4 linked regions of the Homo sapiens genome follow. The protein of the gene in region 2 purifies or fractionates together with the protein of the main gene of each other region. This does not show direct contact. Each region holds a gene or a part of one and is shown on either strand. Other genes may lie near its edges.

Evidence for each region. Proteins that work in one complex are often made in the same cells at the same time.
Region 1: the proteins of SLC9A5 (region 2) and VANGL2 purify together in Homo sapiens (affinity purification with mass spectrometry; one large-scale study listed by BioGRID and IntAct). This does not show direct contact.
Region 3: the proteins of SLC9A5 (region 2) and NUP155 purify together in Homo sapiens (affinity purification with mass spectrometry; one large-scale study listed by BioGRID and IntAct). This does not show direct contact.
Region 4: the proteins of SLC9A5 (region 2) and PKN3 purify together in Homo sapiens (affinity purification with mass spectrometry; one large-scale study listed by BioGRID and IntAct). This does not show direct contact.

What each region holds. Positions count from the first base shown.
Region 1 is NC_000001.11:160,416,796-160,421,063, reverse strand, and holds part of VANGL2 (vang-like protein 2), read right to left. Parts: intron 2,063-4,268; coding exon 1,455-2,062; intron 1,120-1,454; coding exon of another isoform or gene 1,071-1,119; exon of another isoform or gene 666-1,070; intron 654-665; coding exon 517-653; intron 13-516; coding exon 1-12. UniProt on the Homo sapiens protein: Involved in the control of early morphogenesis and patterning of both axial midline structures and the development of neural plate. Plays a role in the regulation of planar cell polarity, particularly in the orientation of stereociliary bundles in the cochlea.
Region 2 is NC_000016.10:67,251,209-67,256,244, reverse strand, and holds part of SLC9A5 (sodium/hydrogen exchanger 5 isoform 1 precursor), read right to left. Parts: intron 3,704-5,036; coding exon 3,401-3,703; intron 1,225-3,400; coding exon 1,061-1,224; intron 853-1,060; coding exon 774-852; intron 493-773; coding exon 315-492; intron 1-314. UniProt on the Homo sapiens protein: Plasma membrane Na(+)/H(+) antiporter. Mediates the electroneutral exchange of intracellular H(+) ions for extracellular Na(+) in 1:1 stoichiometry, thus regulating intracellular pH homeostasis, in particular in neural tissues.
Region 3 is NC_000005.10:37,287,637-37,291,874, forward strand, and holds the end of NUP155 (nuclear pore complex protein Nup155), read right to left. Parts: 3' UTR 501-4,238; downstream 1-500.
Region 4 is NC_000009.12:128,708,235-128,712,502, reverse strand, and holds part of PKN3 (serine/threonine-protein kinase N3), read right to left. Parts: intron 1-4,268.

The sequences.
Region 1 (4,268 bases), on a different chromosome or scaffold from region 2:
TGGTGCTGTTTTCTGCACAGGAACAGGATAGAGGAGATGGTCACATCAGAGTGTGGCCTCTCTTCCCACTCCAGGAGCTCTGGAGACAGCAGCCTGACATGTCCAGAAGAAGCTGTTCCCACCACCCAGCAATACCTCCTAATCCCAACCCTCCTGGCCACCTCTGGGAGAGGCCATAGGAAAGCAACAAGGAAGGCACTGGAAGCGCAAGAGTCCTGCAGTTGTTCCTCCCCAGTGCAGGGGGTTCTGCAGCTCCGAGAGCCAAAGGGCTTAGACCAGGGCTGATGAGAGACACAGAGGAGCCAGATCAGGGGACATGCCATAGCATAAAGGGACAGCAAGTAGGATGAGCAGCTAAGATCAGCCACCTGGAGTCAAGGGAAATGACTGAATAGAAGCGGCTAGAACATGGGCTAAGGAAAGGAAAAAGCAAGGGACAAAGGGTAAAAGAGAGGCGGGAACTTGGAGTCCTGCTTGGGAAGAGACAGGGAAGGGCAGAGGAGCAGGGCTGCTCACCCTCTCCGAGGGAATACACCTTGAAGCCAGACACTTTCTTGGCCAGGACGGACTTGGGCAGGTTGAGGAGGGCAGGGTTGTAGACAGGGAAGTCATGGTAATACTTCTCCAGGATCCACACTGCCACGCGCTGGATGCTGTGGGGGAGACGGCAGGAGGGGGTGGGAGAAGGGACAGACCAAGGGGCACAGGGGAAAGGGACACATTAGGGCAGGTTGGCAGGGCAGGAGAGGACACAGGACAGGGACAAGCTGCTTCCGAGAAGCCTGACTCCGGGCCTGAGGTCTACTTACCAGGCTCCCAAGCCTTTCCCAGGGCTGGGCCTGCCAGTCCCTCCCCACCATGCCAAAGCCTAGCAGAGAAAGGGCATTGGGCCTGGGTCCCCAGCCAAAGATCACCTCATCCCCATTCAGCGTTCCCCCAAGATCCTCTACAGGACCCAGGACGTGCCACTGATATTCTGTGTGGCCTCGAGGGGTAGCTTGTTTACTGGGAGCTGAAGAACTCTCCTCCTTATCTCTTTCTCTGGGGATCCCTCCTCTGGCCAGGTCACTTCACAGGCCACTCTGAGTGCTCACAAGAAGCTGCGCCTCCCAGAAAGGACTAGAAAAGGGATTCCAAAAAGCCCCTGTTTGTGCACCCCCCCATATTTCTTCCCTTTGGTCCATCCCCCTCTAATATTCCCTACCTCTAAATGCCTATTCATTCCCATCTCATAACTCCCAACTGATCTTGCCCCAAGACCGTGTACATGAACCTGCCTATCAAGCAGCAAACATTGGTGAAAACCTACTTGGTGCAAAGTACTCAACTCCCTCCCACACAACCCTCCAAGCCCATCACCTCCAGCCCACCATCATACCCTCCCACCCTAGCAGTCACTCCACATCCTCCCATGCCCTTTCCCTCCCAACCCTTCTCCAGCCGTGGGCTAGTACCTGAGATGGCCAACGTTGTAGAAGCGGCTGGCGCCGTCGGTGGAGCGCACGACCTTGAGCGTGAACTGAGGCTGGAGCTGGCGCAGCTCCAGCAGGACCACGGCCAGGTAGTGCACGAAAAGAAGGGCGTCCACCAGCGACACGGCGAACTGCACCACGCCCTGGTAGCTGCGCTCCCGAGCATCCAGGATGCGCACACCATAGAAGAGCCAGTAGGAGACCACGAGCAGGAAAACCAGCACCATAAGCAGGGCACGCAGCACAAAGACGCGGGGCAGCGAGGCCTTGGGCCGGCGGAAGAACAGAGCCCAGCTGCCCAGTAGCAGGATGAGCAGCTTGAAGGCGACAGAGATGAAGAGGCCCTCGCAGGCCGTCCCGCAAGGCTCCAGCTCCTCCCGCCACAGCAGTGGGGGCAGCAGCAGGAAGGCCAGAGGCGTGAGGAAAGACAGCAGTGCCAGGGTGGCCCCCGCTGCCACACCCAGGTGACGGGAGCAGTCCAGAGGGACACTGTCCTCCATGTCCTTGGCGATGCGTGTGAGGTCATCATGGGAGATGCTGTGCTCTGAGGTGCCCGTTACTACTGTCGTCGTTTCCCCCCAGTTGTCATCCTACAGGCAGAAGGGGGCCAGCCACACAATAAGGAGGAAAGGATAAGAAGAGGAAGAGGAGGGAAACAGGAGAAAGGGTGAGGGGACAGGAGACAGAGAAGAACACATGGGAAAGGAGAAGGCAGAAAGAAGAGAGGGTAATCAACAAATACGCAACCATCAAAGTATTTACTGAGCTCCAATGTGTGTCAAAGTCTGGCCTCTGCAGATGGCCAAATCCAAGACCCGAGCCCTCGGGGAGCTGGACACTGGTCAGTGAGAGAGGAAAAAACCACACATGCGGCAATGACCCTCAGAGCAGACAGCACAGGACAAATGCTGAAGATGCTGCTCAGGCAGTGACTGGGATCCAAGGGCAAACTCGCCAAGCAAAGCAGGCAGGCTTCCAGAAACCGTGGGACCTGAGCTGATCCTTGGGGGAAGGGGGCTCCAAGGAAGATGTTCTCAATCCCAGATGCACACATTAGAACACTTAGGGAAGTTGGAAAATAATGCTAATTATTGGAGAGTGCAATCTGCTTGTGAACCTTTAAAAAAAAAAAACAAAAAACTCCCCAGATGATTGTAATGGTCATCCAAGATTGAGAATCACTGAACTAAATGATTTCTAAGGGCTGGCTGGCTACTTAAAATGTGATCTGTGGACCAGCGGTGTGGACATCACCTGGGAGCTTGTTAGAAAGGCGGAACCTCAGGCCCACCGCATGTTTACTGAACCAAATCTGCATTTTAACAAGATCCACATGAATCACTCAAACATTAACATTAATTCTGGAAGTCCTGCTGGGCACGGTGGCTCACGCCTGTAATCCCAGCACTTTGGGAGGCCGAGGTGGGCAGATCGCCTGAGGTCGGGAGTTCGAGACCAGCCTGACCAACATGGAGAAATCCCATCTCTACTAAAAACACACACACACAAAAAATTAGCTGGGTGTGGTGGCACATGCCTGTAATCCCAGCTACTCGGGAGGCTGATGCAGGAGAATCGCTTGAACCCAGGAGGAGGAGGTTGTGGTGAGCAGAGATCGTGCCATTGCACTCCAGCCTGGGCAACAAGAGCGAAACTCCATCTCAAAAAAAAAAAAAAAAAAAATTATGGAAGTCCTATCTAAGTTCCTTCCAGCATGCCATGATTTTGGCAGAAGCTAGAGGAGGAGCCTCCAGGGCAGGAATGGCATGAACTGAGGCACCCAAGGGCTATGAGAGCAGAGGATCCCTGTGCAGAAGCACAGCAAGGTGCAACCAGGAAGGTAAGGCAGACAGCAGCCAGGCAGGGCTTGTGCAGGCCACGCTGCAGTGCTGGGCTGGGCAATAAGCACCTGTTCTCCAGGCATGGAGAGCCACTGAAGGAGTAAACCTGATCAAAGCAGCACAGAGAAGAACAGAAGACCCCAGGGGTAAAGGGGTGAAGGCGTGAAGGACACTGTGCAGACTCAAGGCCACTCTGGGTCTCTGGTCTGCAAGGCCACCTCTGCTGGGCCATCTAAATGTCTACAGTGCAGAGGCTACCTGTCTCTGGAGGCAAGAAGGTGGCCAGGCTGAGGTCCCCAGGTGTCCCTCTAAGTGTGGTCTGCTCAAGCTGTTTCTCTGCAGTGGCTGGAGGCCATCCCACGGAGGAGTCCCAAGACCACCAGCTGCCTTCAGCACCCACCCTTCGCTCCTGGGACAGCCTGGGGATATGGAATCACAACCTGACACCCAGGAGGTTGAGGTTACAGGATGAAGGCAGCCCGACAGCACCAGTGATTAGGGAGGTTGAGGAACCTCCTCTCTACAGGATGGGGAACGAGTCTGATGTGAAGATAGAAAGCAGATGCACTGACTGCCTTCAGCTCAAAGCCCTGGGTCTGCTCCCCGCCCTCTGACCCCTAGACATACTGCCCACCCCCTCCAAGGACCAAGGGCTTGGGATCTCCTCCCCAGTAGCAGGTGAGCTGGTCATGTCTCAGGGTCACTTCAAGAACTCAGGAGGCCAGGCCCCAGGAAGAAGGGATTGGGAGAGAGGGAAAAAGAACATTTCCTTCAGGTATTGACCTGCTCCCAAGGCCCAGGAATTCCCAATGTCAGCCACAGAGATTTCTTCTGAGGAAAAAGGAGCTGGGAATCTCCAGCCCCCAAAGATGATCCCAAGGGGAATGAGACTTGGGCAACCTCAGTGTCACCTAAAATCCTGCCTCTGCCCTATTCCAGGACTGTGTTCTGCCCA
Region 2 (5,036 bases):
TGCTCTGACTAGCGGGCTCTCTAATGCACCTTCTGGAGTGCTGCGGCCTCCAGAGCTGGTGGCCCCAGGCCTTAAAGTCTACTTCCAGCCCAGCCTACACCCAGAGGGTTTCAGGGTGCTGAGGACAGCTCTGGGGGCAGCTCCTGAAATATTGCTGAGGTTTACTGACTCCCCAGGACAGTCTGAGGCTCCCACTACCACAAGGGCTCAGGGAAACCTATGGACTCCTGAAGTTCCTGCCTGTGTCCCTATGAGGGGCAACCATCTCCAGTGCCCCCTCCCAGCTATCTGCCTGCAAGGCCCCCAGAACTCACGCAAGAATGGCGGAGAGCGAGGCCATTTCAGCAGTGAGGTAGGCTGCGTAGGCGAGGAGGAAGACCAGCAGCGGCTCGATGATGCGGACCCGCTTGGTGAAGCGTGTGGTCAGGGCCAGGAGGAAGGCAAAGACTAAGCCCACGGCTGCCCCGCCCAGACTGACCACAAACAGGGAGGCTGGGGGAGGAGTGGGTTGTCAGCATGACCCCTGGCCCGGACCCTACCCGGGCTGACAAGACTGCTGCCTGGCAGGGAGTGAGGGATGATGCCCACCGCACTCCCAGGGGCTCAAAACCCCAGAGCCAGGATCCCTGGCAAGCCCCTCCCAGACCCCATTTCTCTATAGAGGAGATGAGGCAACCCGAATAGCCTCTTCTGTCCTGATGCGGGGTGGGAGGGCCTCAGCAACCCAGGGGAGGCAGACCTCCAATGCCAGCTGGGAGCGGGGAAATACTGACCGACTCCCTTCAGGTAGTCAGTGGCCTGCACATTGGCAGAGCCCATCTCCACAAAGGAGTTGCAGACCTTGTACAGCACCTGAGCGAGAAGAGGAGAGTCAGCAGTGAGGCGGGAAGGCAGCAACTGGGACTGCTGGGAGACAGACTGCTGGGAGAGCAGGGTGAAAGCAGACAGCATATTTCTGCCCCAGGGGACCCAAGGGAAGGGACTGAGTCTGCGCAGACCCCTAGTTGGTCAGAGCATGCAGCCTGGGGTCAGGGAATGGCAGTCAGCTGAGCACGCTCACCACGGTGACAGCATCGTTGAGCAGGGACTCGCCAAAGACGATGATAAAGAGAGTCTCATTGACGTGCACCTCCTCAAAGACAGCTAGCACGGCCACGGGGTCCACCGCCGAGATGAGGCTCCCAAACAGCAGGAAGTCCAGTAAGCCAGCCTGCACCCTAGGGGCTATTAAGGGACATGTGTAGGACAGGCCAGTCATTGAAGACGACCCAGTCTCCTGGAGCACGCCCTGGAACAAGCCCAGGCCCCACCCCTGCTGATAACAGCAAGGAAGCCCAAAGAGGACTTGGGATGGCAAAGACAGCATTAGCCTGCAGATCAGGAGACTTCAGTCAAGCTACCTATGCCTAAGGTCTGGCTTTGCCACTTACCAACTGTGTGATGCTGGTCCGTCACTGTCATGTGGCTCACCTTAGCCATGCCTCCTCATCTGCCTGCCTCACAAGATTGTTTCAAAACTCAACCCAGCCATTTGGAATAGGGAAAAAGCCCAGGTACAGTGACTCATGCCTGTAATCCCAGCACTTTGGGAGGCCGAGGTGGGCTGGATCACCTGAGGTCAGGAGTTCAAGACCAGCCTGGCCAACATGGTGAAACCCTGTCTCTACTAAAAATACAAAAAGTAGCCAGGCGCAGTGGTGCAGGCCTGTAATCCCAGCTACTTGGGAGGCTGAGGCAGGAGAATCACTTGAACCAGGGAGGCGGAGGCCGCAGTGAGCCGAGATTGTGCCACTGCACTCCAGCCTGGGTGACACAGTGAGACTCAGTCTCAAAAAATAATAATAAATAAAATAAAATAGGGAAAAAGCACTGTAGCAACAGTAATAATAACTACCAGCAAATGGAAATTGGCTGCTAACTATTTTTATTAGGGGGAATAACAAAAGAGAGTGCTTTCTCCCACACCTGTGGTTCCCGGCCAAAGGGATGTGACACAATTCTCAGCAGGTGTGGAGAACTGAATATAGTAAGAAAAGCAACACAGATCGGACTTGAATATGTCATATAATTTCTATGAGCCCCAGTTTCCCCATGTCTAAATTGAGACTAATAACAATATCTACCTCAAAAAGTTCCTTAGCCAATGCCTAACATATAGTAAGCACCCAAAAGATATTATTATCTATTACTGTTATTATGATCTGATGTCCTCCCTTCCCTTCCTGCCCCAAATAGTTCACTACCTCAATAGGGAAACCAGGTTAGAGTCCCAGGTAGCAATTGTAAACGTTTTCTTGTAATACCTTGGAAAAAGTGTGAATCATTAACCTTCAGGGTTGAATGAATTTCTTGGGTTAGGAAATAAAGAAGGTAGCAAGAGAGGGCAACCTAAAGGCAAAGAGCCTCAGTAAAACAGACCTGGGGCCAGGCGTGGTGGCTCATGCCTATAATCCTAGCACTTTGACAGGTTGAGGTGGGCAGATCACCTGAGCTCAGCAGTTCAAGACCAGCCTGGCCAACATGGCGAAACCCCATCTCTACTAAAAATACAAAAATTAGCTGGGCATAGTGACATGTGCTTGTAATCCCAGCTACTCAGGAGGCTAAGACAGGAGAATTGCTTGAACCCAGGAGGTGGAGGTTGCAGTAAGCCAAGATCATGCCATTGCACTCTAGCCTGGACAAGAGTGAGACTCCATCTCAAAAAAACAAGCAACAACAACAACAACAAACACGGACCTCTTCTGCTAACCTTGGACCTGATAGCAAACAAATGCAAGGGGTTCTATTTCCTCATGTGTAAATGTGACAAACTACACAAAAGGGTTGCTATGAAGAGTCAGTGGGATAAGTAAGGAGAGAAAACCCAGTGTAGTGCCAGCATTTGATGGATTTATAATATTTATTTTTTAAATATCTATTTATTTATTTAAAAAAATAAATGTTTAAAATAATGAATTTCTTATAGACAACATATAGTTAAGAAAAAAAAATAATAATAAAAACAGAAAACCACCCAGACCTGGCCTGGGGAGAGCCAGGACAGCAGGCCCTTGCAGAAATGATGCACAGCTATGCCTCAGGGGAGACGGGCTGGCAAATGGCAATGTGGTAACAGAGGGCAGGAGGCAACAGAATGGTAACACAGGCTCCCCAGCCTTGGCAGCCCACATACAGCTGGGAGCCAGACTCCTGCTCAGCTGTTATGCTGCAGAAGCCCAGACTGGCAGAGACCTCAATGAGGCCTGAACCCCAGCGGGAGCACTGCCTTGCACTCCAGAGGGAGGGACCTAGGATGGAGCTTTCAGGGCATGGCTCACACCAGCATGGGCCTCCAGAGCTTGAGGAGAAGGGAGAGGGGTGATGGGTCTGGCAAAGCCCAGGTCTTAGGGTCACTCACCTACAAGTCCAGCCTGCTGCAAGCCCCAGAGGGCAGCGCCTGTTGTGAAGGCATTCCAGAGTGTGCCTACCACGGCATAGGTGAGGATGGCACCCAAGTTGTCAAAGAACAGCCTGCTAGGCATGAAATAGCCTGAGTCCAACACAATAGGAGGCAGCAGGAAGAGGAAGAAGGTGCCTGGCTCCAGCTGGTACTCAGCTTTCTTGGCCACAGCCAAAACAATTCCCCCTAGCACCAGGCCCAGCAAAATCAGCAGGCAGCTCTCAGGGACCAGAGATGTTACTTTCCGAGACAGGTGAAACACTGCAATGCAAAAAGAGTGCAGGATGGATCAGTTTATGGAATATCCTCCCACACACAGGCCTATGAACTCCCAGTTTTGTTTTTTTTTTTTTGAGATGAAGTCTCACTCTGTTGCCCAAGCTGGAGTGCAGTAGCACAATCTCAGCTCACTGCAACCTTCACCTCCCGGGTTCAAGTGATTCTCCTGCCTCAGCCTCCTGAGTACGGGGACTACAGACACGCGCCACCATGCCCAGATAATTTTTTTTATATTCTTAGTAGAGACAGGGTTTCACTATGTTGGCCAGGCTGGTCTTGAACTCCTGACCTCATGATCCGCCCACCTTGGCCTCCCAAAGTGCTGGGATTACAGGTGTGAGCCACCGCGCCTGGCCAACCTTCTAAGACTGGGACCAAGGGAGGAGAAATATGCAAGACTTCTAGAATTTCCAATCTCCAGGGCTACAAACCCTCCCCTGCAGTCAAAGTCATCTGTTTCTTAGTGCTCCTGTCACACTATGGTAACCTAGGCCTTTACTGCTTTTTCCCCTTCTAGAAATGTCCCTTCCTTTATACTTTCATCCTCAGGGGACCTCACCTTTCTCTGACAACCCTTATCCATAGCCATTATTTGAACCTCAGCTAATGCTACCCAGTATCTTTTTATATGTAAGAAAGCTGTAAAAATCAGGGTCTTTGGAGTCAAGTTGCTTGGATTCAAAGCTTAGTTCTGTGATCTTAGGGCAAATAACTTCATGTCTCTGACTCAGTTTTCTCATCAGTGAAATGGGAGTAAAAACGATAATGATCTCATAAGATTATTGTGACCATTAAAAAAGACAATCTACAGGCGGGGCGCGGTGGCTCATGCCTGTAATCCCAGCACTTTGGGAGGCCAAAGTGGGCAGATCACCTGAGGTCAGGAGTTCTGGATCAGCCTGGCCAGCACGGCGAAACCCTGTCTCTACTAAAAATACAAAAATTAGCTGGGCATGGTGGCGGGTGCCGGTAGTCCCAGCTACTTGGGAGACTGAGGCAGGAGAATCACTTGAACCTGGGAGGCAGAGGTTGCAGTGAGCCGAGATCATGCCACTGTACTCCAGCCTGGGTGACAGAGTGAGACTCTGTCTCAAAAAAAAAAAAAAAAAAAAAAAAAAAAGACAATCTACTCAAAAGCACTTAGCACACTACTTTACAGTAAGCACTCAATAAATGTTACCTATTATAATGTCCTCACTCCTTAACTAGACCAGAATGTATATTATACCTCCTAGGAGCTGTGTAGACTTCCTAGCCCAATGTGCTTTTCATTATATGGGCTCACTCAGGACTGCGTAGTTTTTAAAACTTTGGC
Region 3 (4,238 bases), on a different chromosome or scaffold from region 2:
TTCAGGTTTGGTTGTTTTGACAGAGGTGCTTTAGGGGGTCATTTCTAATGTGGGTTGAAAACATACATGGGGATCCCGGATCCCACATGGTAAATTGATTTTGTTTTGTTTTTGAGACCAAGTCTTCCTCTGTCGCCCAGGCTGGAGTGCAGTGGTGTGGGATTTCAGCTCACTGCACCTCTGTCTCCAAGGTTCAAGTGATTCTCATGCCTCAGCCTCCCAAGTAGCTGGGACTACAGGCACCCACCACCACACCCGGCTAACTTTTTTGTATTTTTGGTAGAGACGGGGTTTCACCATGTTGGTCAGGCTGGTCTCAAACTCCTGACCTCAGGTGATCTACCTGCCTTGGCCTCCCAAAGTTCTGGGATTACAGGTGTAAGACACTGCACCTGGCCCTTGATTGATTTTTAAAGTTTTATTATTTGGCTTCAATCTCATTTATATATGAGGAAAACGAAGCTCAGAAGAGTTTCAATGATTTAATGGAAGACTTAAAATATTAGAAAAAAGTTTTATTCTTAAGAGAATTTAAAAGAAGACATTAATAGAAAATGAAAAGAAATTGTGAACCCTTTCAAAACCTTTCAATTCAATGTTCTAGTTCTTCATTTCCTTGATACAACTCTGTACCATGGTCATAATTTTTCCGTCTCATGAATAGGAGGAAAAATGACAGGAATGGAGACTACCCTGAGGAATACTTTTGAGATCAGTGGATAGGTGTTCAATGAATAAGTCAGGTATACCTAAAGAAACACTAAATGTACATGTACATCAGTCAGTATCTCATAGCATAAACAGTTAGTCAAGATAGCTTTCTCTTTCCTAACCGTTTTGCCATACTACAATGATCTAGTTAAAATACAAATTTCACAACTTCAATGATTCTTCACTGCCCACAATTAACGCACTGTTTCATAGACTATGTTCTACCAATTATACATTGCCTACATATAATAGTCACTATAAAGAAATAATGGACAGGCATGGTGGCTCATGCCTATAATCCCAGCACTTTGGGAGACTGAGGCAGGGGAATCACTTAAGGCCAGGAGTTTTGAGAGCAGTCTGGGCAACAGAGTGAGATCTTTTGGCTACACAAAAAATTAAAAAAAAAAAAAAAAAAAAAGTAGGGGGGGTGGGGCTAGGCGCAGTGGCTCATGCCTGTAATCCCAGCTCTTTGGGAGGCCAAGGGGGGTGGATCACCTGAGGTCAGGAGTTCAAGACCAGCCTGACCAACACGGTGAAACCCCATCTCTACTAAAAATACAAAAAAAAAAAATTAGCCAGGCATGGTGGCGCATGCCTGTAATCTCAGCTACTCGGGAGGCTGAGGCAGAAGAATTGCTTGAACCCAGGAAGTGGAGGTTGTGGTGAGCCAAGATCGTGCCATTGCACTCCAGCCTGGGCAACAAGAGCAAAACTCAGTCTCATAAAAAAGGCTGTGGTGAGCCAAGATTGTGCCATTGCACTCCAGCCTGGGCAACAAGAGCAAAACTCAGTCTCAAACAAACAAACAGACAATAGCAGGGTGTAGCAGCACGTGCCTGTAGTCCCAGCTATTTAAGAGGATGAGGTGGGAAGACTGAGTTGAGCCCAGGAGCTCGAGGCTGCAGTGAGCCAAGATCATGCCACTGCACTCCAGGGCAAGCCCTTGTCTTCAAAAAACAAAAAAATTCAAAAAAGTAATGCGTTGAACAAACACCAAGTACAAAGTATACTAATACAGTGGATAAATGCTACTCCAACTCTGATCCACTGACTGCCAGGATCAGCATGACACTACAGATGGAACTCAAGAATCTGTCATAACAGGCTATCCGGCTGATTGTTCTGAATGTGAAAGTTTTAGAAACACTGTTCCAAGGGTAAAAATGAGGGGACCTAATTTCTTCTCTCTTAGGAATCTTACCCCCCAAAAGGTATTGCAAGCATCTGTTGTGGGGCTGGAATTCCTAAAACCTCTCAAAGCATGCTGTGTGAATAAAAGGACAGTGTTCAGATTTCTGACTCTAACAGACCATCTAACCATGGAAGCCTACAGCCCTTTTAAAACATGTACTTTCAATGTTGTGAGCTGAGTATATATAACAACATATTGCTAGTATGTAAATGTGCTTAAAACAAAAATGAAGTTCTTATCTCTAGCAGAACTGGAGTCACACCTAAATTACAACATTCAGACAAGGCCTTCCTTTTAAGTAGACATGACAGAATTTTAAATTTATAAAACGAATTAATGTATCGCATACATTCACTTTACATATTCAAAAAACGCTAAACTTAAGAAACTGAAAAGTTGAAAAATAAGAGGTAGTAGTACCCACTGAGTGACGTTCTGGCATTCTATTAAATATTCTACATTAGAAGATTATAGGGAAAAGGGAGCTGAATTCTAAGAGAACAAATGTAGAGAAGGCAACCCTATGGTCTTGGGAAAAGACAATAATGGAAGGAAAAATATATTCAAAATGTATTGTACAAATTGTTAGACATGCATCACTTACAATAAACAGAAGGTAATTATTTGTGGTAGCATAAAGAGAGAAGGGAATAGGCCAGGCACATTGGCTCACGTCTGTAATCTCAACACTTTGGGAGGTGGAGGCGGGCAGATCACTTGAGGTCAGGAGTTCAAGACCAGCCTGGCCAACATGGTGAAACCCATCTCTACTAAAAATACAAAAATTAGCTGGGTATGGTGGCGCACACCTGCAATCCCAGCTACTCGAGAGGCTGAGGCAGGCAAATTGCTTCAAACCTGTGAGGCAGAGGTTGCAGTGAGCCGGGATCGCACCACTGCACTCCAGGCTGGGCTACAGGGTGAGATTCTGTCTCCAAAAAAAAAAAAAAGAGAGAAAGGAATAGAGTGTTTTGTTAGCTCTGGTCATTCCCACTCTTCTTCTCTCTTGTTGCTATTACTTTGAAGCATTTGGTTTGGTTATTCTATTTTGTTAAGGAATAATTAAAAAGTACATTACTAACAGTTTTGCTTTATATATTGTGTGCCTTGGGCAAAATTTGTGTGTGTGGTTATTCACAGAGGAGGAGCCAGATAGGTAGCTCAGTCCATAAACTATGGAAGGTAGCAGTATCCTTTACTGCAGTGGCTTTCAAATTTGACATGCACCAAAATCTCCTGGAGAGCTTGTTAAAACATAGAAAGCAGGGCCTCATCCCCCACGTTTTTGATTCAGTAGGTCTGGGTTGGGGCTCGAGAATTTGCATTTCTAACAAATTCCTAGGTGATGCTGATGCTGATGCTGATGCTTCTGGTTTGGAGCACATACTTTGAGAACCACTGCTCTAATGGAATCAGTAGTCACAAGGCCAAGCAGCCAGGTAGACACTAAGGGAAAACAGTACCTCCCTGTGTAGGTTTTCAGGACACAACATTAGTTACAAGTTTTATCACCTGCTCAACCAGGTATATAGCTATGTCAATTCTCAAGGGCTTTAACTGACAAAACCAGTTGTTAGAGGACAGTTCTTTCAAGGGTGAACCCAACACCTAAAAAAAGTTTTGAAAAAGTCAGTTATTTGCCTATTTAAGGACGGTTTTAGAATCCACTATTATGGGAATGGATCTGCTTAGCCTATTTGAGGTTTTTTTGTTTTTTGAGACAGAGTCTCGCCCTGTTGCCTGGGCTGGAGTGCAATGGTGCGATTTTGACTCACTGAAACCTCTGCCTCCCGGGTTCAAGTGATTCGCCTCCCTCAGCCTCCCGAGTAGCTGGGATTACAGGCGCCCGCCACCACGCCTGGCTATTTTTTTTTGTATTTTTAGTAGAGATGGGGTTTCACCATGTTGGCCAGGTTGGTCTCAAACTCTTGGCCTCGTGATTCGCCCACCTTGGCCTCCCAAAGTGCTGGGATTACAGGTGTAAGTCACTGTGCCTGGCCGCCTAGTGGAGTTTTAATGCCAATATCCTTGGACTAACTTGAAAATGAATAATATAAATTCGAAATTTCTGCCTGCAGTACAATTCAAAATAAGAGTTTCTAAATTTTTTTAATCCTTATGTTAAAATAATAAATAATCTCATTTCAGTTGTTTTTTCACCCAATTACTAAAAAACAAAATAGTCATAAAAAAGAATTCATTTAGCAAAGGTACTATTTGTAGATATTAGCCACTTATTAAAAACATATTTCTATTAAGATTGTTCTTACATTCTTAGATTTAGAACACCTGATATCTGGACCCAGCTGAGTTTTTATTTTACAGATCATAA
Region 4 (4,268 bases), on a different chromosome or scaffold from region 2:
CTGGGCCTCAGTTTCCCCATCTGAACAGTGGAGGTGAGTCCCAGCTCTGCCCCACCTCTCCCAATGGATATGAAACGTGTTTTGTCAACGGAGTAAGTTCATGTGTCACGTCACTAGAGGGTTGTCCCTCAAAGGGTAGAGAAAGCAGTGGGGATCTAGCAGCTTTTGAGGACACGAAGCAGGCCCAAGAGTATCATTTAGGGAGAGTCTGGGCCTGGGGGTTACACACAGAGAGAACTTGTAAACAAAGGCAGGGGTCCAGGGTAGAAAGAGAAGCTTAGAAAGAACAGCTCGGCCGGGCGCAGTGGCTCATGCCTGTAATCCCAACACTTTGGGAGACCAAGGCAGGCAGATCACCTGAGGTCAGGAGTTCAAGCCCAGCCTGACCAACATGGCGAAACCCCATCCCAACTAAAAATACAAAAACCAGCCGGGCATGATGGTGGGCACCTGTAATCCCAGCTACTCGGAAGGCTGAGGCAGGAGAATCACTTGAACCCGGGAGGCAGAGGTTGCAGTGAGCCAATATTGTGCCATTGCACTCCAGCCTGGGCGACAGAGCAAGACTCCAGCTCAAAAAAAAACAAACAAAACAAAAACTTGAGGCCGGGCGTGGTGGCTCACACCTGTAATCCCAGCACTTTGGTAGGCTGAGGCAGGTGGATCACCTGAGGTCGGGAGTTCGAGACCAGCCTGGCCAACATGGTGAAACTCTGTCTCTACTAAAAATACAAATATTAGCCGGGCATGGCGGTGGGCGCCTGTAATCCCAACTACTTGGGAGGCTGAGGCAGGAGAATCGCTTGAACCTGGGAGGCGGAGGTTGCAGTGAGTCAAGATTATGCCACTGCACTCCAGCCTGGGCGACAAAGCAAGACTCTGTCCCCCACCCCCCCCAAAAAAAAGGCCGGGCGTGGTGGCTCACACCTGTAATCCCAGCACTTTGGGAGGCCGAGGTGGGCAGATCACGAGGTCAGGAGATCAAGACCATGGTGAAACCTCGTCTCTACTAAAAATACAAAAAATTAGCCGGGCGCAGTGGCGGGCGCCTGTAGTTAGTCCCAGCTACTCGAGAGGCTGAGGCAGAAGAATGGCGTGAACCCGGGAGGCAGAGCTTGCAGTGAGCCGAAATCACACCACTGCAATCCGGCCTGGGCGACAGAGCAAGACTCTGTCTCCAAAAAAAAAAAAAAAAGAGGTGGGGCGAGGTGGCTCACGCCTGTAATCCCAGCACTTTGGGAGGCCAAGGCGGGCAAATCACCTGAGGTCGGAAGTTCGAGACCAGCCTGACCAACATGGAGAAATCCCATCTCTACTGAAAATATAAAAATTCGCCAGGTGTGGTGGTACATGCCTGTAATCCCAGCTATTCAAGAGGCTGAGGCAGGAGAATTGCTTGAACCCGGGAGGCGGAGGTTGCAGTGAGCCAAGATTGCGCCACTGCACTCCAGTCTGGGCAATAAGATCGTGTCACTGCACTCCAGCCTGGGCAATAAGAGCAAAACTCCATCTCAAAAAAAAAAAAGGACAACTCAAGTATCTGGGGTGTTTAGCCAGGGGACAGGATATGGGGTGGCCTTGAGTAGTTGACTTCTAGGCCTTTTAACAAGCTGTTTCTTCTGCGTTCCTCAACTTGTCTACTTGGCCATAAGTACTCCCGTGTAAGTCCTTCAAGGCCAAGACACCACCTCCTCTAGAAAACATTCCTTGGGCCGGGCATGGTTGGCTCACGCCTGTAATCCCAGCACTTTGGGAGGCCAAGGCAGATGGATCACCTGAGGTCAGGAGTTTGAGACCAGCCTGGCCAACATGGCAAAACTCTGTCTCTACTAATAATACAAAAATTAGCCAGGCATGGTGGTGCAGGCCTGTAATCCCAGCTACTCGGGAAGCTGAGGCAGGAGAATTGCTTGAACCCAGGAGGCGGAGGTTGCAGTGAGCTGATATCGCACCACTGCACTCCAGTCTGGGCGACAGTGCGAGACTCCATCTCAAAAAAAAAAGAAAAGAAAATATTCCTCGATTCCCCAAGGCCAGGTGAGAGGGCTCCATCCAGAGCCTGCATTTCCTCTTCTCAGCTCTGCTCACAATGGAATGGGGTCAGTCGGCCCTGTAGCAGTGCTCTGTGGAGACAGGCACTGGCCTTTCCAGCTCTCACTGTATCTCGGTGGGATACAGCTTCAAAGCCCATGCTCTCAGATTATTTGTTGATGATGATTTGGCTGCTGCTACAAGGAGACAGATCTCAGTGCAAGATAAGAAAATTAACTTTTTTGGCCGGGCGCGGTGGCTCACACCTGTCCCAGCACTTTGGGAGGCCTAGGCCGGCAGATCACAAGGTCAGGCGATCGAGACCATCCTGGCTAACACGGTGAAACCTTGTCTCTACTAAAAATACAAAAACAAAAAATTAGCCAGGTGTGGTGGCGGGCACCTGTAGTCCCAGCTACTCGGGAGGCTGAGACAGGAGAATGGCATGAATCCGGGAAGAGGAGCTTGCAGTGAGCCGAGATCGCGCCACTGCACTCCAGCCTGGGTGACAGAGCTCAGAGTCTCACTCTGCTCGGAGTCTCACTCTGTTTGGAGTCTCACTCTGTCACCCAGGCTGGAGTGCAGTGGCACAATCTCAGCTCACTGCAAGCTCCGCCTCCCAGGTTCATGCCATTCTCCCACCTCAGCCTCCCGAGTAGCTGGGACTACAGGCGCCCGCCACCACACCCAGCTAATTTTTGCAAATTTTTTTTTTTTTTGAGACAGAGTTTTGCTCTTGTTGCCCAGGCTGGATTCCAATGGTGCCATCTTGGCTCACTGCAACCTCCACCTCCCGGGTTCAAGCAATTCTCCTGCTTTAGCCTCCTGAGTAGCTGGGATTATAGGCATGCACCACCAGGCCCGGCTAATTTTGTATTTTTTAGTAGAGACGGGGTTTCTCCATTTTTGTCAGGCTGCTCTCGAACTCCCGACCTCAGGTGATCCACCCACCTCGGCCTCCCAAAGTGCTGAGATTACAGGCATGAGCTGCCGTGCCCAGCCTAATTTTTTTTTTTTGAGACGGGCTCTCTGTTGCCCAGGCTGGAGTGCAGTGGCGCGATCATGGCTCATTGTACCCTCAACCTCCCTGGGCTCAAGCAATCCTCCCACCTCAGCCTCCCAAGTAGCTGGGACTACAGGTACGTACCATCATACCTGGCTAATTTTTTTATTTTTTTATTTTTTTTTGAGACAGAGTCTCGCTGTGGCCCAGGCTGGAGTGCAGTGGTGCGATCTCGGCTCACTGTAGGCTCCGCCCCCCGGGGTTCCCGCCATTCTCCTGCCTCAGCCTCCCGAGTAGCTGGGACTACAGGCGCCCGCCACCACGCCCGGTTAATTTTTTGTATTTTTAGTGGAGACAGGGTTTCACCGTGTTAGCCAGGATGGTCTCGATCTCCTGACCTCGTGATCCGCCCGCCTCGGCCTCCCAAAGTGCTGGGATTACAGGCGTGAGCCACCGCGCCCGGCGATTTTTGTATTTTTTGTAGAGATGGAGCTTTGTCATGTTGCCCAGGCTGGTTTCAAACTCCTGGACTCAAGTGATCCACATGCCTCACCCTCCTAAACTGCTAGGATTATAAACATGAGCCACTGAGCCAGACCAGAAAACTCTTTCTTTTTTTTTTTTTCTTGAAAGAGTTTTGCTGTGTCACCCACGCTGGAGTGCAACAGTGCAATCTTGGCTTACTGCAACCTCTGCCTCCCAGGTTCAAGCAATTCTCTTGCCTCAGCCTCCCCAGTAGATGGGATTACAGGCATGCGCCACCACGCCCGGCTAATTTTTTTTGTTTCTAAAGATGAGGTTTCACTATGTTGCCCAGGCTCGTCTAGAAATCCTGGGCTCAAATGATTCGTCCACCTCAGCCTCCCAAAGTGCTGGAATTACAGGCTTGAGCCACTGTGCCCAGCCAAGAAAACTTTCTTTTTTTCTTTTTTTTTTGAGACTGGGTCTCAAAAAAACTCCTGAGCTCAAGCAATCTTCCCACCTCAGCCTCTCAAAGTGCCAGGATTATAGGTGTGAGCCACTGCACCCAGCAATTTTAGTTTAATTTTATTATTTTTTTTCCAAGGAAATTATTATTATTATTTTTTGAGATGGAGTCTTGCCCTGTTACCTAGGCTGAAGTGCAGCGGCGCAATCTCAGCTCACTGCAACCTCACCTCCTGGGTTCAAGCAATTCTCCTGCCTTAGCCTCCCGAGTGGCTGGGACTACAGGCATGTGCCACCACATCCAGCT